7 linked regions of the Homo sapiens genome follow. The protein of the gene in region 1 purifies or fractionates together with the protein of each later gene. This does not show direct contact. Each region holds a gene or a part of one and is shown in the gene's direction. Other genes may lie near its edges.

The links.
Region 2: the proteins of USP36 (region 1) and KRR1 purify together in Homo sapiens (affinity purification with mass spectrometry; 2 studies listed by BioGRID and IntAct, with this or other methods). This does not show direct contact.
Region 3: the proteins of USP36 (region 1) and WDR3 purify together in Homo sapiens (affinity purification with mass spectrometry; 2 studies listed by BioGRID and IntAct, with this or other methods). This does not show direct contact.
Region 4: the proteins of USP36 (region 1) and DGCR8 purify together in Homo sapiens (affinity purification with western blotting; 3 studies listed by BioGRID, with this or other methods). This does not show direct contact.
Region 5: the proteins of USP36 (region 1) and KIAA0232 purify together in Homo sapiens (affinity purification with mass spectrometry; 3 studies listed by BioGRID and IntAct, with this or other methods). This does not show direct contact.
Region 6: the proteins of USP36 (region 1) and MACROH2A2 purify together in Homo sapiens (affinity purification with mass spectrometry; 2 studies listed by BioGRID and IntAct, with this or other methods). This does not show direct contact.
Region 7: the proteins of USP36 (region 1) and WDR36 purify together in Homo sapiens (affinity purification with mass spectrometry; 2 studies listed by BioGRID and IntAct, with this or other methods). This does not show direct contact.

Annotation. Positions count from the first base shown.
Region 1 is NC_000017.11:78,809,278-78,813,679, reverse strand, and holds part of USP36 (ubiquitin carboxyl-terminal hydrolase 36), read left to right. Parts: intron 1-678; coding exon 679-820; intron 821-4,402. UniProt on the Homo sapiens protein: Deubiquitinase essential for the regulation of nucleolar structure and function. Required for cell and organism viability.
Region 2 is NC_000012.12:75,497,530-75,501,931, reverse strand, and holds part of KRR1 (KRR1 small subunit processome component homolog), read left to right. Parts: coding exon 1-9; exon of another isoform or gene 10-115; coding exon 116-209; exon of another isoform or gene 210-1,980; coding exon 1,981-2,123; 3' UTR 2,124-2,953; coding exon of another isoform or gene 2,954-3,108; 3' UTR 3,109-3,211; coding exon of another isoform or gene 3,212-3,238; 3' UTR 3,239-4,402. Other genes in the region: GLIPR1 (glioma pathogenesis-related protein 1 precursor), read right to left, coding at 2,954-3,108, 3,212-3,238. UniProt on the Homo sapiens protein: Part of the small subunit (SSU) processome, first precursor of the small eukaryotic ribosomal subunit.
Region 3 is NC_000001.11:117,942,674-117,947,075, forward strand, and holds part of WDR3 (WD repeat-containing protein 3), read left to right. Parts: intron 1-722; coding exon 723-953; intron 954-3,412; coding exon 3,413-3,506; intron 3,507-4,402. UniProt on the Homo sapiens protein: Part of the small subunit (SSU) processome, first precursor of the small eukaryotic ribosomal subunit.
Region 4 is NC_000022.11:20,093,156-20,097,557, forward strand, and holds part of DGCR8 (microprocessor complex subunit DGCR8), read left to right. Parts: intron 1-1,557; coding exon 1,558-1,640; intron 1,641-4,402.
Region 5 is NC_000004.12:6,865,778-6,870,179, forward strand, and holds part of KIAA0232 (uncharacterized protein KIAA0232), read left to right. Parts: intron 1-414; coding exon of another isoform or gene 415-486; intron 487-4,402.
Region 6 is NC_000010.11:70,094,346-70,097,845, forward strand, and holds part of MACROH2A2 (core histone macro-H2A.2), read left to right. Parts: intron 1-1,308; coding exon 1,309-1,408; intron 1,409-3,500. UniProt on the Homo sapiens protein: Variant histone H2A which replaces conventional H2A in a subset of nucleosomes where it represses transcription. Nucleosomes wrap and compact DNA into chromatin, limiting DNA accessibility to the cellular machineries which require DNA as a template.
Region 7 is NC_000005.10:111,122,988-111,127,389, forward strand, and holds part of WDR36 (WD repeat-containing protein 36), read left to right. Parts: intron 1-817; coding exon 818-937; intron 938-1,120; coding exon 1,121-1,202; intron 1,203-2,620; coding exon 2,621-2,808; intron 2,809-3,746; coding exon 3,747-3,896; 3' UTR 3,897-4,402. UniProt on the Homo sapiens protein: Part of the small subunit (SSU) processome, first precursor of the small eukaryotic ribosomal subunit.

The DNA of each region.
Region 1 (4,402 bases):
TTGGGAATTCCACTGGAGGGATTTGTCATGTGTCATAGAGACCGTCCACAGGGAAGGACACTTTTTAGTAAAGCCAGAGCCTTGGGAAGGTCAGGACAGGATCCCATCTGCCCTCACATTGATGCTGTTTTGAATGTAAACAGGAAAGTCACCATTTATAGTATTGCCCCAAATTAGAGGTACTGCTCCCTGGATGGTAGCCAGCCAATGCCCCTTCCCGTGTGGGGAAGCTGCCCCTGTAGGGATATGCTGGGAAGGACGTGTTTGTGGGGGTGCTGCTGCAGAGCTTCTCTGGAGGGGCCTTCTCCTGGAGCTGGCTGTCACTGACCTGGAGGCTGGAGACCGTGGCAGCTGAGGCATTTTTGCTGCTTTGTACGTCTCTGCAGAGTGTGGCTGAGGTGTTTGAGGTTCTTGCTTTCTGGTGCATTGAACTCTGATCTTGGAGGAATTCTGACTCTAATTTGCCCTTGCTCTGCTTATATTCAGCAGATACTTGGGGCTGATCTCTCAGCCTCACTGTGGTTGAAAGGCAAAGGGAGATTCCAGAGAAGTGGTTAGGACTGGCAGGGTTTCCCCAGGCCGTGTTTCTGCCTTTGCCCCGCCTTAACTTATTCTAATTCTCTCCGTTTCTGTAATGCCTAGTAAGAGAATTCCCTACTTGTTTTCTTCCTTTGACAGAATTCCAGGCTCTAAGAAAAGTCCCGAGGGCCTCATCTCCAGGACAGGCTCCTCCTCCCTTCCCGGCCGCCCGAGTGTGATTCCAGATCACTCCAAGAAGAACATCGGCAATGGGATTATTTCCTCCCCACTGACTGGAAAGGTATTTGTGAGAATGATGGAGGCCAAAGTGGCTGGTCTTGGTGCTCCTCACAGACCTCCTCACACTTGGGAAGTTGGCCACAGTGGAAGGAATTTGCAGGCAGTTTGCACTATTCTAGTTGATGTTATTTCTTTTCTTTTCTTTTTTTTTTTTTTTTTTTTTCGAGACAGAGTCTCGCTCTGTCATCCAGGCTGGGGTGCAGTGGTGCGATCTCCAATCTCGGCTCACTGCAAGCTCTGCCTCCCGGGTTCCCGCCATTCTCCTGCCTCAGCCTCCCTAGTAGCTGGGATTATAGGTGCCCGAACCACGCCCGGCTAATTTTTTTTGTATTTTTAGTAGAGACGGGGTTTCACCGTGTTAGCCAGGATGCTTTCGATCTCCTGACCTCAGGATCTGCCCGCCTCGGCCTCCCAAAGTGCTGGGATTACAGGCATGAGCCACCGCGCCCGGCCAATGTTATTTCTTAAACTGGTCATCAGCTGACATTGGCTATAGAGAAAGAGGAGACATGAATGAGAAAATTCTGACCCAACAAATTAGAATTGTCATTCACAGATCTGTTCTACTCATGAGACCAGCACCACTTACAGGTGTCGTGACAGGTGTGCCAAGCAAACTTTCTGTGTGCACTCCTTTTATTTCCTTTATAATGCCAAGCAAACTTTTTTTTTTGGAGACAGGGTCTCACTCTGTTACCCAGACTGGAGTACAGTGGCACAATCATGGTTCAGGGCAGGCTTGAGCTCCTGGATTCAAGCCACCCTCCTGCCCCAGCATCCCTAGTATTCGGGACTATCAGTGCACTACCACACCCAGCTAATTTTTAAATTTTGTGTAGAGACAGGGTCTCACTATGTTGCCCTGGCTGGTCTTAAGCTCCTCAGCCCAAGCAATTCTCCTGTCTTGGCCTCTCAGAGTGCCAGGATTACAGGCACCAAGCAAACTCTTAACCGTAAGCGTGTAGGAAAAAATATCCTTTTTTTTTTTTCTTTGAGACGGAGTCTCATTCTGTCGCCCAGGCTGGAGTGCAGTGGCGCAACCTTGGCTCGCTGCAACCTCCACCTCCCAGGTTCAAGCGATTCTCCTGCCTCAGCCTCCCGAGTAGCTGGGACTACAGGCGTGTGCCACCATGCATGGCTAATTTTTTTATTTTTAGTGGAGACGGGGTTTCACTTTATTAGCCAGGATGGTCTCTATCTGCTGACCTCCTGATCCACCCGCCTCAGCCTCCCAAAGTGCTGGGATTACAGACGTGAGCCACTGTGCCCGGCCTGTTCTCACATTTAACGGGGAAAATGTGAGTAGTTTGTACCAATGTTAATTTCCTGATTTGGGTAATTCTGCTGTGGTTATGTAAGAGAGTGTCTTTGTTCTTTGGAAATACACATGGACATATTTTGGGGTAAAAGAACATCATGTCTGCAATTTACTCAAATGGATCAGAAATAGAAATATGTGTATATGCATACGTACATAGTCATACATATATACACACGTACATATACATACAGAGAGAGGATGATAAAGGTTATGTGGTTACAGGTTAACCATTAGGAACTACCCTCTAAGTTACCTTTGTGTGTATTTGAAATTTTCTGCTAGAACTGTTAAGAATTCAGTTTCACTAAGTGGATTCATGAGCAGTTTCCTCATTAGAACACAGTGATCATTTGAAGTGGGGTGGACCCTCTTGATGACTGTTTCTTTTTTTTTTTTTTTTTTTTTTTTTGAGACAGAGTCTCGCTCTGTCACTGAGGCTGGAGTGCAGTGGCGCCATCTCAGCTCACTGCAGCCTCTGCCACTATGCAGCCTCCGCCTCTTGGGTTCAAGCGATTCTCCTGCCTCTGCCTCCTGAGTAGCTGTAATTACAGGTGCCCGCCAGCACTCCCGGCTAATTTTTGTAGTTTTAGTAGAGATGGGGTTTCACCATGTTGGCCAGGCTGGTCTGGAACTCCTGACCTCAAGTGATTCGCTCAGCTTGACCTCCCAGAGTCCTGGGATACAGGCATGAGCCACCGTGCCCGGCCTGGATGACTGTTTTTGATGGATCGTCTTCCTCTCCCTTTAGAATGAAGAGTTGAACCCCACACACAGGCAGTCAGGGCCTTTCACAGTCTGCAGGGGTTTTGGTCATTTACGTACATCTGTATTTCTCTTCACATTAAAGAAAATAGAAGCTGAAATTAGAAGCATTAGAATTGAAGTGGCAGTAAAATACATGATATAATTGCAAAGTTGGTGGTCACTGTAGCCCAGACTAGGAAGTTAGGAAGCAGCCTGGGCCTGGGACTGTGACTCATGTCTGTAATTCCAACACTTTGGGAAGCCGATGTGGGAAGATCAGTGGATCCCAGGAGTTCGAGACCAACCTGGGCAAAACCCTGTCTCTACTAAAAATGCAAAAGCTAGCCAGGTTTAATGGCACGTGCCTGTATTCCCAGCTACTCAGGAGGCTGAGGTGGGAGGATCACTTGAGCCAGGGAGATTAAGGCTGGAGTGAGTCATGATCATACCACTCCACACCAGCCTGGGCAACAGAGCAAGACCCTGTCTCAAAACAAATTTAAAAAGTAGCCTGGGCAACATAGATCCCATCAGCACAGAGAATATTCAGTAAGCTGTTGGGGGAGGATCACTTGAACCCGGGAGGTTGAGGCTGTATGCAGTGAGCCATGATCACGCTGGTGAATTCCAGGCAAGGTGACAGAGTGAGACCTTGTCTACAAAAAAAAGAAGAGGGGGGCCGGGCACTTTGGGAGGCTGAGGTGGGTGGACCATTTGAGGTCAGGAGTTTGAGACCAGCTTGCCAATATGGTGAGACCCTGTCTCTACTAAAAATACAAAAGTTAGCTGGGCATGGTGGCGTGCGCCTGTAATCCCAGCTATTCGAGAGGCCGAGGTAGGAGAATCGCTTGAACCCGGGAGGTGGAGGTTGCAGTGAGCTGAGATTGTGCCACTGCACTCCAGCCTGGGTGACAGAGCGGGACTCCATCTCAAAAAAAGGAAGCAGCCTGGGCAACATAGAAAGACCCCCATCTCCAAAACCCCATCTCCAAAAAAAGTGCAAAAATTAGCCAGGTGTGGTGGTGCACGTCTGTTGTCCCAGCTGTTTGGAGGTTGAGGCAGGAGGATCACTTAAACACAAGGCTGCATTGAGCTATCATTGTGCCACTGCGCTCCAGCCTGGACAACAGAATGAGACCCTGTCTCAAAAAACCCCAGAAAAACAAAGGAAGCCCCACTTGCCACAGGAACTCCATGGGCAGAGTGATGCCCGAGGGTGGAGATTGGCTCAAGGAGAGTCCCTGTGTCAGGCACACCTGCAGGGGCGCTTCACTGACCATGAGCATTTTCATTACAAACGTGATTTTCCAAATACACTGCAAGCAGACGAGCCGTTTTACTCTAAATGACATGGTGCAAGTTCTAGTGTGTATGGAAATGTTCAGCCAGTGAAACGGCTTTGCGGTGCAGTGGAAAGATGAATTCCTTTTAGAAAACAGTATTAACAAAGAATAGAATGTAGGGAACAAAACAAAACTTGGAAGAAAATAGAGGTAAATTCTTAACCTCTGGGAAGGG
Region 2 (4,402 bases), on another chromosome or scaffold:
GCAATAAAGGTACGGCACTTTATGTCTGGCTCACATGAATAGCAAAGTTCATAGATACTTGAATTATTTAACTATAAATACATTTAACTGATATATTTTTTATTTATTAATGTAGGCTAAACAAGCAGAAGCCATCAGTAAGAGACAAGAGGAAAGAAACAAAGCATTTATTCCACCTAAGGAAAAACCAATTGTGAAACCTAAGGAAGGTAATGCTTTCTATGATGTAAAAGTCTTTATTAATTAGGAAAAGTAAACCCATAATAAATTTGTCTGAATCTTTTTAAGAAACAGTTGTATCTTTTCATCAGTTCTCTTAGCATTTCATTAATTACTAATCCTAAGGACAAGGGATGGCTGAGATAATTTATAATTTAGAGGCAGCTAATGCCTATTTCAGTGCAAACTGGATTGACAGTCCTCTCCTGACCTCTGGTCTGTGCTTGGAAAAGACTCTTTGTTGTGAAAGATACAAACCCAGGGCAGCCAGTGCATCTTCTGTAGAAATGCAAGAAGATCCCTGAGCTCTGCTGTCATGCCTCTCAAAGAGGAATTATCAGAAGTTGTACTTTTTCTTCTCTTTATGTGATCTTGGCTTAGAGTTTGGCTTCTATATCGGTAACATGGATTTCTCATCACCTTAGACTAAAGGATGCTGACAGGTCTTATTCAGGAGCTATTAGTGCGAAAGTGATTGTGGTTTTTAAATGGCAGAAATCACTTTCGCACTAACCTAGTATTTAAAAGACACTAAGAGAAAACATTGTCATGCCATTTCTTCTGATGCATCCTCTTCTGCATTTTTTTCCCCTGTGGTAACACTTATCCTCTTCCTAAAGTAACCCTCCAAAGTGAACAGTGACACACTGAAGGGAGAGGGCTCACCAGCAATATTGTACATAGACTGGGTCAGAAACAGATATAATACATTATTATTTTAATATATTGCTTGTTAATAGCTTTAAAAATACTACATTCTATGGTAGATTATTGGTTATATAAAAGGTAGAAATGTCATAAGTATTATAATTTCCAGTCTGTAAAACCTGTCAGTTGAGTGCTTTGAAGGTACTCAATATACTCAATAGCTAGTTACCCTAATTTAGTTTCTCCACACGGTGGAGGCTTTAACACTCTGTGCTTCTCAGGTTGCTGGGTAGTTTGATGTTTTATCTTATGATTCTTTTATGCTGTGATCCTGTACTTTGAATGGTAAGAAAAAGTTGCATTCTTTTTCACTGCTTCCTTTCTCTATTTTGTTCACACTTTTGGCATTGATTAGATAGTTGGCTTCTATTAGGGGGACTTCCACACACTCTCAAATTATTGTCTTTATTACCAAAATGTTGTTAAATATACCAAAATCTTGTTAAAATACTATTAATTAGTCATTCATTGAATTAATATTCAATGAATTAATCTAACATTAAATGAATTAATTCATTGAATATTCAATTAATATTGAATTAATATTTGGAAAACTTTAAATTTTCGTTTTGATATTAGAGGAAGTAGATTTTGACCTCTAGCTTAGGGTTAGCTGATTAAACTTATTGAGAAGGGATACATGTAATTTTAAATTATTTTAATGTGCAAGATGGAAAATAATGACTCAGAAGTTCCAAAATATGGAAAAGAATGTAGGTAAAATAATTTAGTCTGAAGTAGGATTTAAGGAAATAGTCTTAATATAGTTGAATCCAGTAATTGGTTCAATTATGCCATTTATGCCATTTTTATGTATACTTGTACTAATATATAAAGTATTTTATGATTTGTTTTATCTTAATCTGAAGAAATTTCTAACTGCTTTAGGCAAGTGTTTTTATATTTTATACTGTGATCACCTTTCAATTATTCAATTATAAGAATACTCTGAAGTTAACTGCCTTAAACATATATTCTTTGTTAAACATATATTCTTTGTTTTACTTGGTAAAATCTAAAGTATTACATGTGTTGTGCTTTTAATTTGTCTAGCTTCTACTGAAACTAAAATTGATGTGGCCAGCATCAAGGAAAAGGTTAAGAAAGCAAAGAATAAGAAACTGGGAGCTCTTACAGCTGAAGAAATTGCACTTAAGATGGAGGCAGATGAAAAGAAAAAGAAGAAAAAAAAGTAACATACCCAAAACTCCTTGACTAGAACTATCTCCTTTTGTAAAGGATTTTGAGATATCAGGCATTAGTTGCCTTATTTGTGAGAAATTTTCTGAGGGCTTTTTTTTTTTTTGGTGGTGGTGGTTGTTCATAGAAGAGTGTTCTTTATAAATTATATTATTATTGTATTTTTTGAAAAATTTATACGAGAAAGTGGTATATAAGTCTTTGTATACATTACGACCATTGTGATTATCCATTAAATCCAGTGTCTGATGCTATTGGTTAGTAATGATGTCCCAGCATTTGATGTTCCCTCTCTAATGATAACAAGTAAATATTTAGGTTTATCCCTTTTGAAAGTTTGGTTTTACTTTTAACAGTCCATGAACAGAAAATTAAGGCCTCTAAAATCAGATCCCCTAGTTACTCCTCTGTTCTGAATCTGGGGAAGTAGTAAACCAAAAAGACAGGGAAAACCAGATATTTAGAGTCGAAGCAGCATGCAAAAAATAATAATGTTTTTAACTAATGAAGGCTACTGGAGTTACTAAGAATCACCTAAAAATGTGCTACTGTACCTTGCTCATTTTGCAGATTTAGAAGCTGAAACATGGGTTAGGTTACTTACTAAAAGTCCACCTGTGGCAACCTGCAAATAATGCTTATTTATACTAAAGATGAGTTTATCTGATAGAGTTAGGAAATTTCTTCTTTTGAGTAAGAGTATTGCTATAACATATATTTTTTTCTGAAATGTTTTAAAATAGAAGTACACCTAATTGTTATTGGTTAAAAAAAAAGCCATATGTGAATGAGGTTGGTTTTTGGGTTTTTTCTTTCCTGAATTGTATTAGTCCAAAAGAACTAAATTAGGGTACTTGTGCTGTACCAAAATGGTAATTATAACAGACAGTATTAGAATTACTGAATTAACAATGAGAAAGAGAGAAGTGTATCTGTTACGTGGATATATGGGCCAGCCTGGATATACAACAGAGTAGTAACCTGTGAAACAAACATAGAATATCCTCTTAGACATTGTTCCTCATAATGCACTGACAGAATTCACATAGCTCTTAATGAAACAATTTAAGATTGATGTACGTACGTTTGACTTGGTCTCGCTGTCGGTTAACTGTAAAGTTAGGGGGAAGAAAGAAAAAAAATTAAAAGGGTAGACACAGTTGAGAGTTTTATTTTAAAAAGCTAAGTCTTATAATTATGACCATTAACTTGCTTTGGCTTTATTGCAGTGACTTTCCAAGTTTAATTATTCAAAACTTTTTGAACTGACTGAATTAACTTGGTATTTTTAAGTTGACTTTTTACATAAACTTTATAAACCTTTTATAAAAAGGAAACTATACCATTACTATAAATGGAAAATCATTTTACACATCATACCTAGCAGGTAATAAAATTTAAAAAATAAAAATTAAATATTAGAATGTGAGAAATTTATTAAAATATAGTTCTAAAAATAAGTTTCTTCCTGAGAAGAATGATACTGTTTATGATGAATCCATAGTGAAAAGACAGTGACCTCTCTTTCATCCAGTCTAGTATATCACTAAATCATCATTACGATGTTTGGCTATCAAGTCATTAATTACTGTCCTCCTTTCACTGAGCTTTATTCAAATTTTGACAATCAGAGCACTGGGAAGAAATAAATTCCACAACTGCCTTTAGCCTTCTGGATACTTTCTTTTATAAAATAGAAACCTTTTCCACACCAGTTCTGCAGCAGTCGCTATTAGATGCTCGTGGTAGAACCCATCAATCATCTGGTCCTCTGGGTACTGGTGAGCATCCCTGGTCTTCATACCTGTGAGTGGGCTTTGTGGTGAATTACTGTAAATATGCTACCCTCACTTTTCTTGGCAGTTATGTCGATGAAATCAAGAGTGTGATGTTCTAGTTATTTTTTTTTATATATATTTTTAAATGTTCAATATTCAACTATTGAAACAAATGTACATCTGTGAACTAGCTAAAATCATCTTATGTACCACTAATATGCCCAGCACATTTTGTAAAACAGTCCTGATTTGGCCTCCAAGGGTATTTATTGAACTACCAGCAGTATCTAGGAGACCACGAAGGAATACCACGAAGGAATTTATGCTCCAGTGCTTGCCATAATTTGTCTGAGAAGGAATCTGTTAAATAAAAGCTTTTATCCTCTAACCTTTACCTTCATCAGACCTTATAAAAGGTCAAATGGTGATTCTTAAGTTTTTTAGTCACAAATCTTACTTATTCAGTATTAGTGCGAAGAGTAGAATACTTTCAAGTA
Region 3 (4,402 bases), on another chromosome or scaffold:
TCACACTCTGCTCCTGTTGTCCTAATCATGGGCCCACTTTTTGTCTTGTATTTGGATTATTATAGTACCCTTTTTAGCTAGTCATTTACTGTCTTTTCCTGCAGCTAATTTAAGAAAAAGAAAAGTGTGTCCCACGTTCAGAAAGGATATAAGGTCACTTATAAAGAATACATACACAGAACCAAAGTATGTATCAGAACCAGGATCTGAGCCTAGTTTTTTTTTTTTTTTTTTTTTTTTACTTAAAAGCCTACTCAGCTACTACTCAATACTCGGAGCACTCTTTTAATTTTTTTTGAGATGGAGTCTTGCTCTGTTGCCCAGGCTGGAGTGCAGTGGCATGATCTCGGCTCAGTGCAACCTCCATCTCTCAGGTTCAAGCGATTCTCCTGCCTCACCCTCCGCAGTAACTGGGATTACAGACTTGTGCCACCACACTCAGCTAATTTTTGTATTTTTAATGGAGATGGTGTTTCGCCATGTTGGCCAGGCTGGTCTCAAACTCCTGACCTCAAGTGATCCACCCGCCTCGGCCTCCCAACATGCTGGGATTACAGGCGTGAGCCACTGCACCCAGCCTCAGGGCACTCTTACTTGAAAAATTGTTTATAGTTATTCAAACTTTATATAGATAGAGGACATTGTAAAGCCTTTTCCTGGAAAAAGTAAACCTTGTGAGCTAAGATGGTAGCTAGAACATTTATGATTATTTTCTTGTACAGGTCCTTTGACTTGATTCATTCACCTCACGGAGAGTTAAAGGCTGTCTTCCTGCTGCAGAACAACCTGGTGGAATTGTATTCACTGAATCCATCCTTGCCTACTCCTCAGCCTGTCAGGACAAGCAGAATCACTATTGGGGGTCATCGCAGTGATGTGCGGACTTTGTCATTCAGCTCAGACAATATTGCTGTTCTTTCAGCTGCAGCTGATTCCATTAAAATATGGAACAGGTTCGTGAAATGATGTTTTATATAGCTGTAGTTAGTAGTATTTCTTTTAATTTTTTTTGGTACTCTTAAGGGTTAGTTATTAACTCCTTAAGGCCCTAAATACAATTATCTTTAGTGCATTTGGGCCATTAGCCTGTGGAGCTTAGAGAAGAAAAAGTTGCCTTTTAAAATGTGGTGCAAAAAAAAAAAAAGGCAAGCTTATTCCATGTTTAGAGCTTGTAACTGTACTTGGCTAGAGAAAAACACACAACCATACTACCTACTCTTTAAACTTAATAAAAAGCAGGCTGTTATTGCTGCCCAGTAATTGTACCCTAATTTCTCACCCTTCTTTTACTTTCCCAGATGACTGTTTTATACCTTGCTTCTGTTGTCAAATCAAATACCTCCAAAACCTTGAAGCTAATGATCATATCTCCCACCTTAAAGGAAATAATAACCCTCTCTCACCCCTGCATTGCTCTCCAGTTACTACCCCATTCTCTGATTTGTTTTCTCCATTCTGTCTTCATCTGTCTCCCATCAAGCTTTTGTCCCCACTGTTTCACCAAAACAGTCATTGTCATCAGTGATCTTGTTTCCAAATCCATTGAGCTAAAAGCTTTATTTTATGCTTTGTCCTTGAATTGATGACTTTCTGTCTTTGACACACTCTTTGACTTTCATTATTTCCCCTTCCCTTGCTGTCTGTTTATTCTCAGTCCTCGCTCCATCTTTCTTATCTTTATGACGTCTAAGTGTTAGAGTGCTTTAGGGCAGAGTCTTTGGACCTTTTGTGTATCTAAACTCACTTTATGTAATCTGTCATGTAGCTTTCTCTGTATGATGACACATAAATTTATATCCAGCTTTAACCTCCTCCCTAAACATCAAATTCATATATACAAATACTTTGTGTCACCACTTGGATGTCTAATTAAGCATTTCAAACTTTTATGTGTCCCAAACCAAACTTACGTTGTTCATGTCTCCAAAAATCTTCCCACCTGCTATTCCTTCAGACTTCCCTATCTTAATAAATGATTACTTGCTACCAGTTGTAGTCTAAACCTTGTAGCCATTCTTGATTTTCTTTTATTTATTTATTTATTTTGAGACAGAGGCTCGCTCTGTCGCCCAGGCTGGAGTGCATTGATGTGATCTCGCCTCACTGCAACCTCCACCTCCTGGGTTCAAGTGGTTTTCCTGTGTCAGCCTCCCGAGTAGCTGGGATTACAGGCGTGTGCCACCACGCCTGGCTAATTTTTGTATTTTTAGTAGAGACAGAGTTTTACCATGTTGGCCTCAAACTCCTGACCTCAAGTGATCCACCCATCTCGGTCTCCCAAAGTGCTGGGATTACAGGCATGAGCCACCGCACCCAGCCCATTGTTGATTTTCGTATCCCATATTCATCCAATCTATTAGCAAATCCTATCAGCTCTACCTTCAAAAGTGATCCCAAATCCAGCCTCATCTTACCACCTGCACTGCCACTACCCCATTCAAACCACTGTCATCTCTCATCTGGGTTATTGTAAAGCCCCCTGACTGGTGTCCCTGCTTTCTTGCTTGCCCCTCTATAGTCTGTTCTCAACACAGTAGCCAGTGTAATCTTTTTATAGTGGAAGTTAGATCACTTCCAGTAGTTCCATCTCACTCTACCTACCTTACACACCTTATCTCTTACTACTCTCCTTTTCTGCTCCACTAGAGCCACACTGGTCTTCTTGCTATTCCTTCAACAGAACAAGAATGTGCCTTTCTTATGGCTGTTGTGCTCCCTGTTCTTTCTGCCTGAATCCATCTTCCCCATTTATCCATAAGCTTTTTCTGTGTCTTATCAGATGACAGTCCTATCATTCTTACCCTACTCCTTGCACTCTTCATCCTCTTCTCCCAGCATTATGTTGCTCTATAGCACCTAACACCTGATATACCAAATATTTAGATATTTATTATTCCCAAAGAATGTTAACCTTTATGAGATTAGGAACCTCTGCTGTTTCATCCACTGTTGTATCTCCAGCACCTAGAACAGTACCTGGTAATGTAGTGGGCATTCAGTAAATGTTTGTTAAGTGGACATTTGATATATATTTGATTAATTAATTAATGTTTGTGGTCCTATAAAAAATGTAGGGATATGTAATGATGTACTAATTTGACTTGTAATCCTTCAGACTCACTCACTTCTTGGTAATGGCAGATTGGGCTCCGTGGAGCCCAGCAGACACTTTTCTACTCTGCTTTTGTGTGATTTCTGTTCCTTAGGATTTGGAGGCCTTATAAAGTAAACAAAGTTTGGTGCTTTTTAGTATTTTCTCCCATGACTATAATTGTGTGTGAGTCAAGGGTTTTTAAGACTTTTATCTTCTTTTATGTTGATCTGTCTAAGTGCATTGAAACCTACACACTGACCTCTAAAATGGGGATGCAGATTCTCTTAACATGAGTTCTTTATTTTTTCTTTCTCATAGGTCTACACTGCAGTGTATTCGCACAATGACCTGTGAATATGCACTTTGCTCATTCTTTGTACCTGGTGATAGACAGGTAGTCATAGGAACAAAGGTAAATGGAGACTTTTTCTGGGATATCTGGATCTTTTCTACTCAAAATTCATAAAGTTAAGAAATCTGGTTCTTCTTTTTAGCATATTGGAAATGGACTGGAGCTAAGTAATCTGGGAGGATGTTAGTTTATTACATATTTTGTTTACTGAAGTTTTACTTTATTTTTTAAAAATTATGAAGAAGAAAATTAAAATCATGACCCTGAGATAACTACCATTAACATTTTGGTGATCATCCTTTCATGTGTCTTTTTATGGGCGCATATGTAATTGTGTTTTAATTAATGATAAAATATATTAAGGGTAATAATTAAATATATTAAGTACCTAATATCATGCTTGGCAGACAGAAGCATTCAGTAAAGACAAACTGATCAAGTCCTTATTCCTAGGTGCTAGTCAGATTGGGAGACAACCATGTGGAAATAAGCAGATATGGATTTGGATTTAGTTTCTGCCCTTTAGAAATAGGTAATTTGGGCCGGGCGCAGTGGCTCACACCTGTAATCCCAGCACTTTGGGAGGCCGAGGCAGGCGGATCACAAGGTCAGGAGATCGAGACCATCCTGGCTAACACGGTGAAACCCTGTCTCTACTAAAAATACAAAAAATTAGGTGGGTGTGGTGGCGGGCGCCTGTAGTCCCAGCTACTCGGGAGGCTGAGGCAGGAGAATGGCGTGAACCCGGGAGGTGGAGCTTGCAGTGAGCCGAGATAGTACCACTGCACTCCAGCCTGGGTGACAGAGCAAGACTCCATCTCAAAAAAAAAAAAAAAAAAAAATGAGTAATTTGGAGCAAGTCACATAACTGCTCATAGTGTGTTCCTTTATATTATGGGATGACGACACTTGCTTTTTGACAGCAGCTTTCGTACCAGATGGACTGGTACCAGCCT
Region 4 (4,402 bases), on another chromosome or scaffold:
AGCACTTTGGGAGGCTGAAGTGGGCAGATCACGAGGTCAGGAGATCGAGACCATCCTGGCTAACACGGTGAAACCCTCTCTCTACTAAAAATACAAAAAATTAGCCGGGTGTGGTGGCGGGCACCTGTAGTCTCAGCTACTCGGGAGGCTGAGGCAGGAGAATGGCGTGAACAAGCGAGGCAGAGCTTGCAGTGAGCTGAGATCGTGCCACTGCACTCCAGCCTGGGCGACAGTGCAAGACTCTGTCTAAAAAAAAAAAAGTAGAAGGCCTCTCTACTGAGTGACAGCTGGGCCAGTATGTCCCTCCCTAGTCCTGGCCCTGCACATATTCAGGGGTGTGCCTAGAGCCAACTGGGCTGTGCTGGGCACATGCTGTAGTGCTTGTTTGTTTTTAAACTGAGCAGCATGTGGGCATGCCAGGAGGGAGGAGAAGCGGGCCAGCATGCTGTTGGCATCCTCCCCCAGTGGTGCTGGCTCTTACCGGCACTATTTCCTGAGTCCTCCCACTCCATGTTTGGGCCTAGCCACACAGAACACCTGGCACAGCGCAGCTCTGGGAAGGCTGTGTGTCCTGGCGAAGACCCACTGCCCTTTTGGACCATGCCCTTGCCGTTTGCATTCATGCCCTGCATTCGTGGTAGTTGACATTCTTTCACAAAAAGCCATTTGCCTCAGCGTCCAGGGTTAGTTGGCTTCTTGTAGGGTGGTGTTGGGTGTACCCCAGGCCCTCGCACCCACAGGTTGATTCTCGAGGTATCTGTCATTGCCGTGTGTTTTCCAGAAGGCCTGCTGCCCATCTTAGATTCTGCCTAAGAGACTTTTGCAGCTCAACAAAGGGGGTGTGGTGGAGGTTTTGACAGATAACTTGCAGTGGGGCCTTTTGTGGGGGTGGAGATGCCTTGGGCGTGGCTGTGTGCTCTTCCCTCTGCGGGATCACCCGCTTTCCTCCCTATGTGCTGGAACCCACTTCCCTTGCCCAGACTCTTGGCTGCCCTATAGACAGCTTGGCTCCATGTCTTGCCAGCACTGATAGCTCTGTGGGGTCTATGGAGCCATCAGCCCTTGGCTATGGCAACTCCGACCCCAGTGGGCATATCCGTGCCCTGCCCTCTAGCAGCTCCCTCTAGCGTCTCTCAGACCTGGCTGCATCTCTCCACCCACGCCAGCCACTGCTGCTGCCACCTGGTCTAGGTACCTGCAGTAGCCTGCTCTCAGGCCTCCCTGCATGGTCCAGGGCCCGCAAAGCTGTTTTCTCACGTGCCACCGAAGTGGTTCCCTAACATACAGCTCCGAGCTCCTCCCTGCCTGCTCCCAGGACCCCAGGGTGAGAGCGCACACACCCAGTGTGGCCCGTGAGGCTTTCTGGTAGCCTGCCACACGTCTGGGCTTTTCCTTCTGTCCTCTCCTGACCCTGTCACTGAAGTGCTGTCTCTCCTCAGGGCCCTCGCTCAGCCTCTGAGCTGTGGGGATGGGAGGCAGCAGTGCACAGTTCACTCTGCAGGGTGGTGAGAAGAGGGCAGTGCCCAAGCCTCACCCTCGGGCTCTTTTTTTTCATAGCCCGAGCTACACTGGAAATCCTCATCCCTGACTTTGTTAAACAGACCTCTGAAGAGAAGCCCAAAGACAGTGAAGAACTCGAGGTGAGTGTTGTGGTCCTGCCCTGCTGGGAGCTGTGTGTGCAGTGCGGCTACCCTGCCCTGTTAGTGTGAGCTGGGGGTGTCCGTGGGCTGTGCTCATGCCTTCCATGCCCTGTAGGTTAGTCTCATCCAGCCTCCAGGTTCTTCTGTTTGTATTTCATAAAGAGGAAACTTGCCTGTCTTTGTATAGGCAGGGAAAAAATGTCCTTTTTGTTAGAGATTTTTGTCCTCTTTTGCAGCATTGAGTGTGCACCGTAAATGTCGGGTACACATAGGTTTGTGATGGGAATGAATCTTTGAGGCAGTCTACAAGATTTAGATTGTTCTTTTTTTTGAGACAAAGTCTTGCTCTGTCACCCAGGCAGTGACAGAGTTTGATCTTGACCCACTGCAACTTTCACCTCCCGGATTCAAGTGATTCTCCCACCTCAGCTTCCTGAGTAGCTGGGATTACAGGTGTGTGCCACCATTTCTGGCTAATTTTTGTATTTTTAGTAGAGATGGGGTTTCACCATGTTGGCCAGGCTGGTCTCGAACTCCTGACCTCGGGTGATCCACTCGCTTCCGCCTCCTAAAGTGCTGGGATTACAGGCATTAGCCACTGCGCCCGGCCCTAGATTGTTCTTTATATACTTGACCCTTGAGTAACGTGGAAGTTAGGGGCACCAGCCTCTCACGTGGTCGAAAATTCACGCATCACTTTCAGTCCTCCCAAACCTTAACTACTTACTGGTAACCTACTCTTGACCAGAAGCCGTACCAGTAACAAACAATTGATTAATACATATTTTGTTATGTACATATTACTACATCTGTCCCCAACCTAGTTTTGGCACCAGAGATCAGTTTCAGGGAAGACAATTTTTCCACAGACGGTGTTGGGGGGCGGGGATGGTTTCAGGATGACTCAAGCACATCACATTTATTGTGCACTTTTTATTTCTATTATCACTACACTGTAATATGTAATGTAATCACTATACAACTCACCATAATATAAAACCAGTGGGAGCCCTGAGCTTGTTTTCTTGCAACTAGATGGTTCCCTCTGATGACGATGGGAGACAGTGACAGATCATCAGGCATTAGATTTGCATAAGGAGTACACAACCTAGATCCCTTGAATGCACTGTTCACAATAGGGTTCACACTCCTATGAGAATCTAATGCTACTGCTGATCTGACAGGAGACAGAGCTCAGGTGTAAAATGAGTGATGGGGAGCAGCTGTAAATACAGATTAAGCTTCACTTGCTCACTTACTCCCCCTGCCCCCACCACTCATGTCCTGCTATGCAGCCCGGTTCCTAACAGGCCATGGATTGGTACCAGTCCATGGCCTGGGGGTTGGGGACCCCTGATATATACTGTATTCTTACATTAAAGTAAGTTACAAAAAGAATGTTATTAAGAAAATCATAAGGAAGAGAAAATTTATTTACTGTTCTTGAAATGGAAACATCATCATGAAGGTCTTCATCCTCCACATCTTCATGTCGAATAGCTGAGGAGGAGGGGGAAGAAGAAGAGTTGGCCTTGGTATCTCAGGGGTGGCAGAGGCAGAAGAAAATTTTTGTATAAGTGGGCCCATGGAGTTCAAATCCATGTTGTTCAAGGGTCAGCCATGTGAAGAACCATTTAAAACTAGCTGTAAACCTTTTTGGGTAAATGGTTATTTGTAGCAAGGGCTTGTGGAATTTTGAAGGGTGCATTCTTATTTATATAATAGCTTTATTGAGATAGTTTACATACTATAAATTTGGCCTTTTAAACTATATAAGTGGATTTTTATATATTCAGAGTTGTATAACCATCATAACTACCTAATTTTAGAGTATCTCAACACCCCCAAAAGAAACTCCATACCCATTAGCATTCCCTCTTAGTTCTCTCCAACCACCAAAAGCCACTAATCTGCTTTCTGTCTCTATATATCTGCCAACTCTGGACATTTCATATTAGCGGAATCATACAATATGTGGTCTTTTGTGACTGGCTTCCTTCACTTAGTGTGCTATGTCAGCTGTAGGTTTTTATCAGAATAAGGAAATTTCCTTTTGTTCCTGGTTTGCTGAGAGTTTTTGTAGGAATGATGTTAGATTTTGTCAAATGTTTTTCTGCTTCTATTCAGATGATCATGTTTTTTTTTGTCTTTTATTTTAGTAATATAGTGTATTATATTGGTTTTTGAATGGTGAGCCAACCTTGCATTCCTGGGATATATCCCACTTGGTCATGACATATAATGATTTTTTTAATATGTTGCTGGATTCATTTTGCTGGTATTTTGTTAAGGATTTTTGCATTTGTAGTTATAAGCAATATTGATCTGTAGTTTTCTTGTGATATCTTTGTCCAGTGTAACAGCAGGTACAGGTATCAGGATAATACTGGCCTCATAAAATGGTTGGAACATGTTCCATTTTCTTCTGTTGTGTGGAATAGTTTGTGAAGGATTGGTGTTCATTTTTTAAATGTTTTGTAGACTGCGTTCAGTGAAACCTTCTGGTCCCAGGCTTTTCTTTGTCCAGAGCTACTTAATTGCTAATTCAATCTTACATGTTATAGGTCTATTGAGATTATCTATTTCTTCTTGAGCCAGTGTTGATAGTTTGTGTCTTTTTTGGAATTTTTTTCCCATTTGATGTAGATTATCTAATTGATTAGCATATATTTGTTCCTAGTATCCCCATATGACCCTTTTTTATTTCTATATGGTTGTGATGGTCCCTTGCTGTCATTCCTGATTTCAGTAATTTGAGGCTT
Region 5 (4,402 bases), on another chromosome or scaffold:
CCCTAATTCCCTCTCTCCCCTGCTCCAGCCCCACTCTGCATCAGAATTAATTTTGCCCCTCTCTTAATTTTCATGCACTTTATGCCTCTTTTTGATTGCATTTTTCATTTCTCATGAGTTATTTATATCCTGGACTATAAGCTCCTTGTGGCTGTGGACCATGCCTTACTTATTTGTCGCATCAGAGTGCCCAGGTGTGGGACTGCTTGCCTGTGATTCTAGGAAGCCCCCAGGCGACTTGAGAGGCACTGCTCTAATCAGCTACCTAGAGACCCGTAGAGGATGAATTTAATCCCATTGAAACACTGCTAAGAAAAAACCCAATAATATTGTTAGCCTTTATCTGTTTGTTTATTGCCCCATTTTTCATCCTTAAATATTCCTTTATGTACTTTGTATTTCACCTGGTTCCAGATTGGGAAGAAAGAAAAAGAGGAAAGAAGCAAGATTCTACATCATACCACTACCATATTCCTTCGCTTTCTAGTATGTTGATGTATTTATGTGTTATCAGAATTCCGGGTTTCCTTGAAAGGTCTTAGCTGCCAAAAAAATTCCCAGAGGACATTTTGGGATTGTCTGATAGTTTAGATGTTGTCAGCACTGCTCTCTCGGCAGCATTGTTATACTTTAGAAGCCAGGTTGAAGCTTACTTCATAGATTCATCTGAGATGTGCAGGAGGCTGAGTGACCTGAAGGGACAGTTTGGGGCCAGCCTGGGACTAGAACCTGTATCTTTCTGTTCTGTCACATTGCTTGGTCAGTCTGAAAGGTGCTTTTAAGAGGATGTGCTTCCGGCCCTTTTCCTGAGTCAGTACAGTCTTTTCAGGAAGCAATCTGGGAGGCCTGTTTAAAGATCAGTAGAACCCCATCTGTTTCAGACTTAGATGATGAAAATGTAGGATTTCCGATAGAACTGGTGTCTAAGAGCATGAAAATAATATGATTATTTTCAAAAGTTTAGTTCAATTCAGCAAACATTTAGTGAGTACCTGTTTACATGCCTGTTGCTAAAGTAGGTGTCCTGGATGAATAAGACTTTGTCCTTGCCCATACAGAATTCAGCGTAGTGAAGATGACCAACTTGTACCATGTTACTTATTTTAACTGAAATAGGTAATTTATTCATATGGTTCAAATTCAGAAGTTACAAGTGTATGTGTACATACACAGTGAAAGGTTTCCTCCCCAGCGGCAACCACTAGTGTGAGTTCTGATGTATTCTCCAAGGATATTTTTTGCGCGTATTAACAAGTAAATGTTCACATGTATTTCTTCCTATTTTTTCTTTTTGCTGAAATGGTACTTTATTGTAATCACCCTTCCTTTTTTTATTTTCTGCACACTATTCCATCGTATGGATATACCGTAATCTACCTAGTCAGTTCTTTATGTTTTAGGGCATTTGACCAATGCAGTTTTAGGTGCTGTAGGTAGAATGGTGGAGGGGAGCACAGAATGCTGTGGGAACCTGCAGGAGAACCCTTCCAGCCTGTGAAGGTTGAGGAAGGTTTCTTGAGCATATCTGAGTGTCCAGAGTAGAAGGACGGAGGCAGGGCAGTCCAGGCAGAAGGAACAGCAGAAGCAAGGGTAAAGAGATTTGAATCTGCTGATGTGTGCAGGGCAGCTGTGAACAGGGATCTCACGGTCTCTGGAGTATAAGCCATACGGTTAAGAGTAGCACAGATGAAGCACAGTGTGCCTTGGTATCTGGACATACATTTGTGGTGAAAATGTTCTTGTCGTTTCTTTGGTTGCCAACTTAGTACCAAGCACCTTGAGGCACAGAAAATAAGCAAAAGGCTTACTTGCTGTCTTCAGGGAATTTCAGTCCACTCAGGAGAGGAGCTCACTGTGCTGTGGAGGTCAGCAGGTCTGGAGGGACAGGAAGGCTCTGATGAGTAAAGAAGGAGTGAGGGTCAGGGGTCATGCTGGTGATGTGCCACCCGGCACATCTATGTAGAGGCTTCTGTCACCACTATCCTACTGGATGCCCATGTAGACCTCATGCGGTAGGTTATTTTCCCCACTTCTAAAGACACATAGGCTCTGAGAGGTGAGACAGCTGCCCCAGATCCCAGTGTGGGGGACAGGCAAAGCATTTTCCACCACTCTGCACCTCTGTGAACTGAGGAAGACTTAGACCAGCAGTTCTGTGTCTCTTGTTTGTCTCTGTTGCACTCAGTATCTCTTCATTGATGTTTCATTTCTTCCTTCCCAGAGAACAAGGTACATGGAAGTCTTGCTTTTCCTGGTGTGACCCAAATGAGAGCTGATTGTGGCAAAGGGGCAAGATTCCCAGAGTAAAACTAAAACCAAGCACCTTTCTCTTTACCCAAACTAGGAGTATTCTGTGAGAATTTACAGCTGTGAAGCCTTTGTTTCCTTCACCCAGCTTCCACCTTCTAAAGAATTTCTCAATTTTACATCTGTTGCTAAAAACATTTCTGGTTAGGCTTTTTGGATTAAGTTTATGTCTTCTTTTCACTGTTTCATTCATTCATCAAGTATTTCTTATGTACCTGCTCGGCCAGGTACTATTCTTGGTGCTGGGAATAAGTAACAAAGCTCTTGGTGCTGGTGGAGTCACATCCCACCTTGGGGAGCTGACAATAAACATGTTAAGTTATATAGTGTGTTACAATATAAATGCTGTTGGAAAGGAGGATCGCTGGACGAGGGGCATTGGGTTTGGGAGTGATGGCAGGAGTTTGCTGTGTTATGGGCGGTGTGAGAGCAGGCTTCCTCGCCAAGGTGCAATTTAAGGAAATACTTAGAGGTAAGAGAGTGAGCTGAGAGGATGCCTGGCAGGAAAGGGAGGGCAGCACTGAGGCCGCTGCTGTGCCTGCCTGTCCATGACAGCGACCTTCTGATCCGCTTTCAGCTTCCTCCATTGTCTCTTCATTCTTTTCATTCCCAGCCACAGCAGAAGTTGAATTAATACATTCGATGATGTATTAGATGAATATAGCATGATCCAGCCTAAAAGTTATAAATGAGTGGAGAGATGTCATAACAAGATGCATATTCCTTGAATATGTTTAGTATAAAACGGGACAAATAAGTCCCTGCCATAGGAATTGACATTCAAATGGAGGATGCAGAAAAAAGACTCCCAAATTTATGGTAGAAACTGGTGTGCCCTTCACAGTGGTTTCAGCAAGAGAGAGAAGAAATGATGTATGAGATAGTCAGAGACTGTTGGCCTGGCGGAAACTTTTCTTCACGTCAGCAGACACTGAGTATCTGCTTTGTGCGGGGCCCCATACTTGGGAATGCAAAGATGAGGAAGACGTGGTCCCGCCCCTCAGGAAGCTTACAGTCGGGTTCTGCTGGGATCTAAACTCGTCTTGGTTCATGCTGCCCCTGCTCCCAGGTTCCTGGCCCCTCTAGCCTGCTTTCCCTGACCTGTCCCATCCCCCACCATGAACTCACTCCCTTTCTTGATCTTAATCCTCAAGAAAGGATGAAAAGATAAGCAGTGTATTTAAACTGATCATTCCTGCAAAGAGCTTTTTCTTTCTCAAATAAGAACCTGTTAACCTCTAAATCCACTTATCTTCAATAGCGCCTTAGGGAGGTGATGGAGAGAGTTCTGGCTGGGGCACCTTCCTTGCTCCCCCTGAGTAGCACTAAGTAATCTCACAGGACAGGCAAGGCCTTTCTGAAGAGGTCTTAGAGTGCAGGGAATTGCATGACAGGTGCTGTTAGCCACCTTGGAAGAACTGCAGGCCTTGCGTGGTGCCACCTTGTTTGCGGGAAGCCCAGCCCTGTCCATTCCCCTGGCCCTAGCATCTGTTTATCTAATAGCAGTACCAATTTTTATTGTTAGGATAAGTTGTAGGAGAAATTAGCAAAGGTTAACTGACTGCTGTGGGTAGACAGTACAATTCTTCTTCAGTTTCTGACTTAGGAGTGTTTCCGAAAAGTTAAGTGAAAACAAAAGTTTGAAGTGTTTCCCTTTTAGTTACATAACAGACACTCATTACGGAATTGAACAGTTTTAGACCCATAAATAATTAAGTTAAAAGCATAACAAAATCCTGTTAGGAAACTGATGAAAAATTTGTTTCTAAAACACTTTAGATTTTAAACTTGAACACGTAGTGAAATGTCTTTTAAAACAATGAAGATGGGTGCAGTGTTCACAGGCCTCTCCACTAAGCAGATGTCTACTGAGAACACAGTATTAGGGGATGTGGGTGGTAGAAAGATGCAGTGGCCAAGCCTCACCCTGGGCGAGCTGGGGCAGGCTCACTCTCTCAGGCACAGTGAGGAAGGCACACTGAAGGGGGTTGCCCTGACTGCCAGCATGCCAGGTATACATGGTGACTGAAGCTGCCACAGGTCTTCTATTGACCACACTACAAGGACTCTTCTTGGTCACTGATGACAGCTGTTG
Region 6 (3,500 bases), on another chromosome or scaffold:
CAGGGCTATGCATTTGAACAGTCTTCAGCAACACAACAGCAGCCCAACCAGACATGCAAATAATTCATTCCTACAAGTGTAAAGTTTACTGAGCAGACAATTTATCTACCAAGTCAACTGGGGCTGAAATAAGACACCCAAGGAAAGAGTCAGTTAATCATATCTCTGGTAGCTGAATGTTTCCATCTTGACAACACAGTAAGCCTCCATTCAAAGAATTGGGAAGAGTATGTTCTAAGAAGAGCATCGGTGTGGCTGGTTGCTAATTCGTCACTGATGAAAGCAGGGAAACAAAGAGGTGGAATTTATGTCCCCTCTCTGGCCTGTTCACTGTTACATGACGATTAGCTTTCTCTCACTTAGCTAAGGCAACATAAAGGTCTTGCTCACATGGGCCAACAATAGAGAATGCCCTCCATTCCACTCTACTGTGAACACATAGGATAGCAATTCCCAATGGTAGCCCCAAGACTGTGGTCTCCAAAGGGCAAGGGAGCCAGACACCCCCAGGTCAGAATCCCAGAGCCCATTACTTCTCTCCAGCAAGGTTATTGGCTTCAGAGCCCTGCCCCACAGATTTTGTGTTCTTCTAGGGAGAATGCAGGATGCTGAGGGGAGAAGAGAGAGCAAGCCCTGGGCTTCCTTGCAGGAGCTTCTCAGAAGATGCATCACTGAAAACTAAGGCCACCAGGGTTGGGAACCAAAGGCATGAGCTGTAAGGGAAAGAAAGAAAGGAGAGGGGGCCAGGCGCGGTGGCTCACGCCTGTAATCCCAGCACTTTGGGAGGCAGAGGCGGGTGGATCAAGAGGTCGGGAGATCAAGATCATCCTGGCTAACACGATGAAACTCCGTCTCTACTAAAAATACAAAAAATTAGCTGGGCATGGTGGCGGGCGCCTGTAGTCCCAGCTACTCAGGAGGCTGAGGCAGGAGAATGGCGTGAACCTGGGAGGCAGAGCTTGCAGTGAGCCGAGATCACGCCACTGCACTCCAGCCTGGGAGACAGAGTGAGACTCCGTCTCAAAAAAAAAAAAAAAAAGAGAGGGGAGGCCCTGTTCCTGTTCCAGGGAAGAAGAAATGGATTTGTTGCATGCTGCCAGCCCCAGAGTGGAAAGCAAATCCACTGAGCTCAAAGAGCTTATTGCAAGCCAAACACCTGGGAAACTGGAGGTTGTCACTCTCTATGCAGCCCCTATGTTGACATTGGGTATGAATAATTAAAGAGAATTAATGAATGCAAGTAAAATATGAGATTTTTCAACAGAATTTTATCTTTTCCACATTCACCACCTTTTCTTCCTAATGCAGCTGTCCTTAACCCAGAGTGACATCAGCCATATTGGCTCCATGAGAGTGGAGGGCATTGTCCACCCAACCACAGCCGAAATTGACCTCAAAGAAGATATAGGTAAGGTCCTGAGACTTCAGTAGAAGTGCCATAGAATAGGCCACTGTTCAGGCAAGTTCTTGTGAAGCTGATCATTGTCAACTGGCTGTCCCTCCGCTGGGGTCCCATGTCAAGCTCTGTCTTTATGTGTAGTTGAACAGTTTCACTAGAGAGAAGCTAACTTTGTTTTAATTCTGCATATATTTTTGAAATTTTTATTGGGGTATTGTGTAAAAGCAAATCATTAGCATAGAGCTTGATGAATTTTTCTCAAAGTGAACCCCACTTTGCAACCAGCACCAAGATCCTGAAGCAGACCCTTACCAGCACCCCAGAAGTCTCCCTCAGCCCCACTCCCAGTCAGTATTTCCTCCAAGGGTAACCACTGTCCTTTCTTATCAAAGCAGAGATGGGTTTCATCTGTCTTGAATTTTGTAAAAATGAAATCTTGTCCTCTTCTGGGTCCGACTCCTTTTGCTCAACTTAGTATTGTGAAATCTATCCATGTCGTTGAGTATGCTTGTATTCATTCATTTTCCTTGCTCTGTAGTATTACACTCTATAAATATATGACAGTTTATTGATCTATTCTACCACTGATGACATTTGGGGTAGTTTCCAGTTTGAGCTATAGTGAATAGTGCTACTATAAATATTGTTGTACATGTTTACATATATCGTAAGCTTAAATATTGAGAGTGCTATTGATAAAAGGGAAATGGACATCTAGAAAAAAATTAGATTGTCCATTAAGCTATGAGCATTGAGTTATTTTTGCCTGTGGTTTGCCACCTGTCCCACGAGTGGCAGAGGGAGCTGTTAATAGCCAGGGTGGAGGAGCTTGGGAGGGTAAGCTGTTATGGGCGCTGGAAATAACAGCATGCTAACAGTCCCCATCCCATCCATTTTTACCAAGCAGAACTGCCTTAAACTCTCCACGGAAAGGGTAAAGTGAGCAAAGAAGGGGCTTTGTCTCTAGGGTACAGGGCTTGCCTGTGAGGGAGGCAATTTGAGGTAGATGCTAGTAGTTCAGCCCTGGCTGGTAGCACCAGGGGCCCCAGGCAGCTGGACTCACTCAGGGCTTCCTCCTGGCATCAGAGGCCACTTGCTGTGCTGAAAAGGAGATAGGACAGCCCTGGGAAAAGTCAGCATTACAGAGAAACAGGTCTCCTTCCACTCTCCATGGAAGGACGCCCTCTAGTAGCCTTCATCTGGAGCTCTTTTAATAGGTGTCCTGCCTCTCACTGACACATTGCAGTGTTCATACTTTACACATTTCTATAGTAATGAAATTTTTATGTAAGAAAAATAATATGCTTCTTTTTTTTAATTGGCATGGTGGCAGAGTAGAAAGAGCACTGGTCTGGGAGCAAAAATTCACGCTCAGATCCCAGCAGTGGATTCTAAGGCCAACCGCTTCAGGGTCTTGGGAGGAGAAATGGGCTAAAGGCAGTCAGGTGGTTAAGAGGGCAGGTTCCAGGTCGGCCTGCCTGGACTGTCCCAGCTTTTCTGAATTGCTTCCTAGCTGACCTTTGGCAGGTTTCTAAACCTCCCTGAACCTCCGTTTCCTCCTCTGTAAGGGAGGATAGCAATAGTACCTGTCCCATAGGGGTGCTGTGATGGGGCTTAGCACAGTGCTGGGCTCCTAGGCAGTTAGTAATTGACAGTGGTTTTATTGCTGCTGTGTTAGGAGGAGTCCCTCCCATTACGATTCCATTTTCCACCACCATCACCCAAACTAATCATCCCAGCAGCCAAGGCCCTGTCTTACTCTTTTCAAAACATTATGTTATTATGGGAAAAGTCAAGCATACACAAAAAATAACAGAAAAGTATAATGAAACCCTATGCAATCAGATGCAATAATCACCACCCATGGCCACCTTTGTTTCAGCTCTTACCCCCTCCACATACTTCCAGACATCATTTTATCTATGAATATTTCACAATGACTTGTAACAGATAAGGGCTGTTTACTAACAACACAGCCACAATACCATTATTGTACCCTTAAAAAGATAGCAATATCAACAAATTACCAGTGTTCCAATTCCAGTTACATCATAAATGTCAAGTTTCTTAAACATTTGTTTAAGCCAGGCACAGTGGCACA
Region 7 (4,402 bases), on another chromosome or scaffold:
AATCCCGGCTGCTCAGGAGGCTGAGGCAGGAGAATTGCTTGAACCCGGGAGGCGGAGGTTGCAGTGAGCTGAGATCGCACCACTTCACTCCAGCCTAGGCAATGGAGTGAAATTCCATCTCAAAAAAAAAAATGTTCCTGAGATACTGATATGTAGCAGTGTACTTACCAAAACAAAATTCTTTCAATGGAAATTTCAGTAGAGTTTTTGCTAATATAATTTTACTAGCATTTGAAATACTTATAAACCAGCAATCATGTTTTCTTGAATTTTAAAAGCACAAGGTACTAAAGAAAAAATTCCAGCAAAATAGAAAAATTAGAGCTGTACTTTGAAAGGAAATTATCAAATTACTTATAATGTCAGTCTGCTTCTGGCTCCAAAGTTCCTTTGGAGAAAAGTAATTTAAGAAACTCTTTTGTATTAAGCATTTATGTAAATTTTGCTTTCCATCCTGTTTTGTGAAAGAGTTTGTACTCAATACAAAAGGAAGTTTAAAATTACTTAATTGTTATATCTTCATGTAAATATATTCATATTTCAGGAAAATGAGCTGTGTTTGTCTTAGAACTTCCCCTGTGCCCTGTCACTTTTTTTCTGCCTTATCGGCAAGGGTGCTAGAGATCTGCATTGGGAAGCCCAAGTTAAGGATAGCTGTGGTATTGGTCAGAAGAGATCATATTTTAACATTCTTATGTGAAAGAGTTTCATTCCTCTTTTACTTTTTGGTATTTGTTTTAAAATTGATTTGAAATTAAATATGAGAAACTGTTGGCAAGATAATTCCTATTTTTCTTTCTCATTTTCTCTTAATCAGAAAAAGAATAAACCAAAGGAACCACCCAAAGTACCCAAATCAGCACCATTTTTCATTCCAACAATTCCTGGCCTTGTACCCAGATATGCTGCACCTGAACAAAATAATGATCCCCAGCAGGTAAAAAACAAATTAGAAGATTCTAAGTATATCGGTGTATGTTTGTATGTGTTTTCTGCACTTCTTTACCAAGACCTAGTTTTACAGATATAGGGTAAATTAATGATAGCTTTTAATTACAAACTATACATTTTTGGGTGATACTTGAATTATTTGAATAATGTGTATTTGTTTTTGTTTAAGTCTAAAGTGGTAAATCTTGGAGTTTTGGCTCAAAAATCAGATTTCTGCTTGAAACTTGAAGAAGGACTGGTAAATAATAAGTGTAAGTTGAATTATAAGATATTTTAACTAATATATTTAGCTTATTTTACTGTATATGAGGAGAAATTGAAGGAAATATCAGCGTTCTCAGTAGTTAAGATAGTAAAAATCAAAAAGATTGAAATTTTGGTTTTAATTTGACGTAATTTTAGCATTTATATTAAATAAGCCCACTAAACTCAAATGGTATTGATATTATAAAAATCTGTTGAAGATTTTTCATATATCTAACTTACTTTTTGCTATTGGAGATGGACACAGTTATTGACTATATTTATAATAAGGAGATCCTTCTTGTTGTGAATTAAATGTAAAAGTTTTGTTTGTCGTTTTTGTAGCAAGTAATTTGCAAGTCTTTTGTTTTTATTTATAATTTGTAATTCAGCGGACTGCTTAGGTGATTTCATATATTCCTAAATTATTTTATTAAAAAGGAAATGTTTTAATCTGTCTGTTGTGTTCATATATTTAAATTTCGAAGGCTACAGTCTGTAGCTAATAGTGATTAGCCATAAGAACTGTAATCATTTAAAAAACTGTAGTCACTCTCCTAATAATTTTAACTTGTCCTCTTGTTTTGATTCAAATGCTTTTGTTTTCATACCGAGATTACTTGAGTCCACATTAGCAAAAGTCAGAGAATGATACTGATGAGCCCTTGTAAATGACTTGTTATGTTTATGGGGAGACAAAGAAATAAAAACACTATTGTTTACTATATACTGAAGGATCTAAAAGTGATTAGACTTTTGTCATTGGTGATACTCTTTTTCAGAAAGCTAAAGCATAGTCATTGCAGTTCTCAAATGACTCATAAAAATAGCTGTAAGTGTACTGAGTGTGTTTTCCTAGGGTGCATATGAAACAATTCTTCTAGGGAAAAGAAGTAGGTTTGGGCTGGGTAAGAATAAGGGATGGGGTCTTCCCCCTCTGATTTTATATATTCTGTACTGTTAGTAATATAGTTCCTAATGATTATGTACTTTTATAACTTTATAACAATAGAAAAGAAAAATTATTTTACCTCATCAGATTCCCAATGCTAACCACTATTAATACTTTTGTATGTATCGTTATAGGCTTCTTAATTAGGATTTACTCTGAGAGAAGATATATGAGCATTTTAAAATTCTAACGTGCCTGTTGCAAGGCATTAGATTTTCTTTATTAACAGGAAAAAGGTTTAAATTACAGAAAAAAAATGTGTTTTGAGTACTTTCTCTTATATTGGTGTCATCGTTTGTACTGATTTTCAATTATTTTGGGTTTCATTCTACTACATAATATGAAAAAATTAACCCACAGGAAGAATTTCCTGTACCATTTAAATATATCCTATTTGGGGTATAAAAGGAAAACTGTAATTTTCTAAGTTAAATGATTATAATCAAGTCATAACTGGATTAAAATTTAATGCAGATGACACTGCTCTCAACCTTCTGAAAGAATCAGGCCCATCAGGAATTGAAACAGAGCTGCGAAGCTTGTCTCCTGATTGTGGTGGGTCCATAGAAGTTATGCAGAGCTTCTTGAAAATGATTGGGATGATGCTGGACAGAAAGCGTGATTTTGAGTTAGCCCAGGCATACCTTGCATTGTTTCTAAAGGTAAGTCTAATGTAAGACAGTACTGCCCAGCTTGTCTTCTTCTGGGGCAGTGCTATCTAACAGAACTTTCTGCAAAGATGGGTATGCTGTATATCCATCCTTTCCAGTATCATAGCCACTTGCCACATGTAGCTATTGAGTTCTTGAAATGTAAATAGTGTGATCAAGAAACTGGATTTTTAATTTTATAGAATTTTAATTAATTTAAATTTAAATAACCGCATGTGGCTAGTGACTACCACATTGGACAGCTAGACAGTGCAGCTTGGGAGTCTTGTTTTGTTTTTTTACTCAACTGCACAATAATTTTGACTTTACCCCCTGACATTTTTATGCTATCTGCTTGATCCAATGTGCTGAACCATTAACTTTTCTTTTTTTAGTGGTTAGTTACATTTTGGAAGTTTTTTGTGATTATGAATAGAAAGTTGGGTTTGTTTGTTTTTTTTTCTACTACTGAAATCAAAATGTTCACTTCTATCATTATTAAAGGAGTTTTGATCATTTGACAATAAGACTGTTACTTTTATGATTAATATAGTGGTGAACTCATGTTTTGAGGGTCTACTTTAGTGGTATAATGTGTTGAAGGAGGTAGATGATGCCGATTTTTGGTGATAATAGATTTGATTCTTTATCCCATTTATACCTAAAATGAGTTCACTTGATCTGATTATTTAAAAGTATCAGGACTGTCCTTAGGTGGAGAGGAGTGATGACCACTTTAATTCTACCAAGGAAGTCACAGTATCATAAAGGACCTTATAATAAAAAAAGTTTGATAGAGGAGGGGAAAATGGGAGATAGTAATAAACCAGCGCTTAAGAAAACAAATATTCACCTAGTGTCTTTTGTGGTTCCTTGGTAGAAAAATTGAATCCAGATTAGGTAAAATTTTAATTTTCTTAAATGTTCAATCATCATATTTTTCTTTGCAGTTACACCTTAAAATGCTTCCTTCAGAGCCAGTACTCCTAGAAGAAATAACAAATTTGTCATCCCAGGTGGAAGAAAACTGGACCCATTTGCAATCACTCTTCAATCAAAGCATGTGTATTTTAAATTATCTCAAAAGTGCTTTGTTGTAAAAATAAATTTGTGACTAAACAAAGACTTTCATATTAAATGGGTTCAATTGAACTCATTTCTTATTTTCCAAGTGTCAATGTGAAAAGAAAATAAATGCTAGCACTACTGACTAGTCAGTATATCTCCACTTTAAATGCTAAATACTTTCTTGAAATAAAATCGCACCTCCCGGCCAGGCATGATGGATAATGCCTGTAATTCCAGCACTTTCAGAGGCCAAAGCGGGAGGATTGCTTGAAGCCAGGAATTTGAGCCCAGCCTGGGCAACATAGCAAGCAAGATCCCATCTCTACAAAAAGTTAAAAAAATAAATTACACCTGCCTTTTGTTTTGAAGACTTAAAGAATCTGCTCAAATGATTTATTTTCTGAGTCTCTTCACATTAACTTTTATATGATTTTTAAAAAATTATTACCTGCTTATATTTTTTGAGTATCTGTTTCATATAAAGAGATGCTGCATGTTCACTGTGAAGTATTGCTGAATTAAATTGAAAATGTCAGAT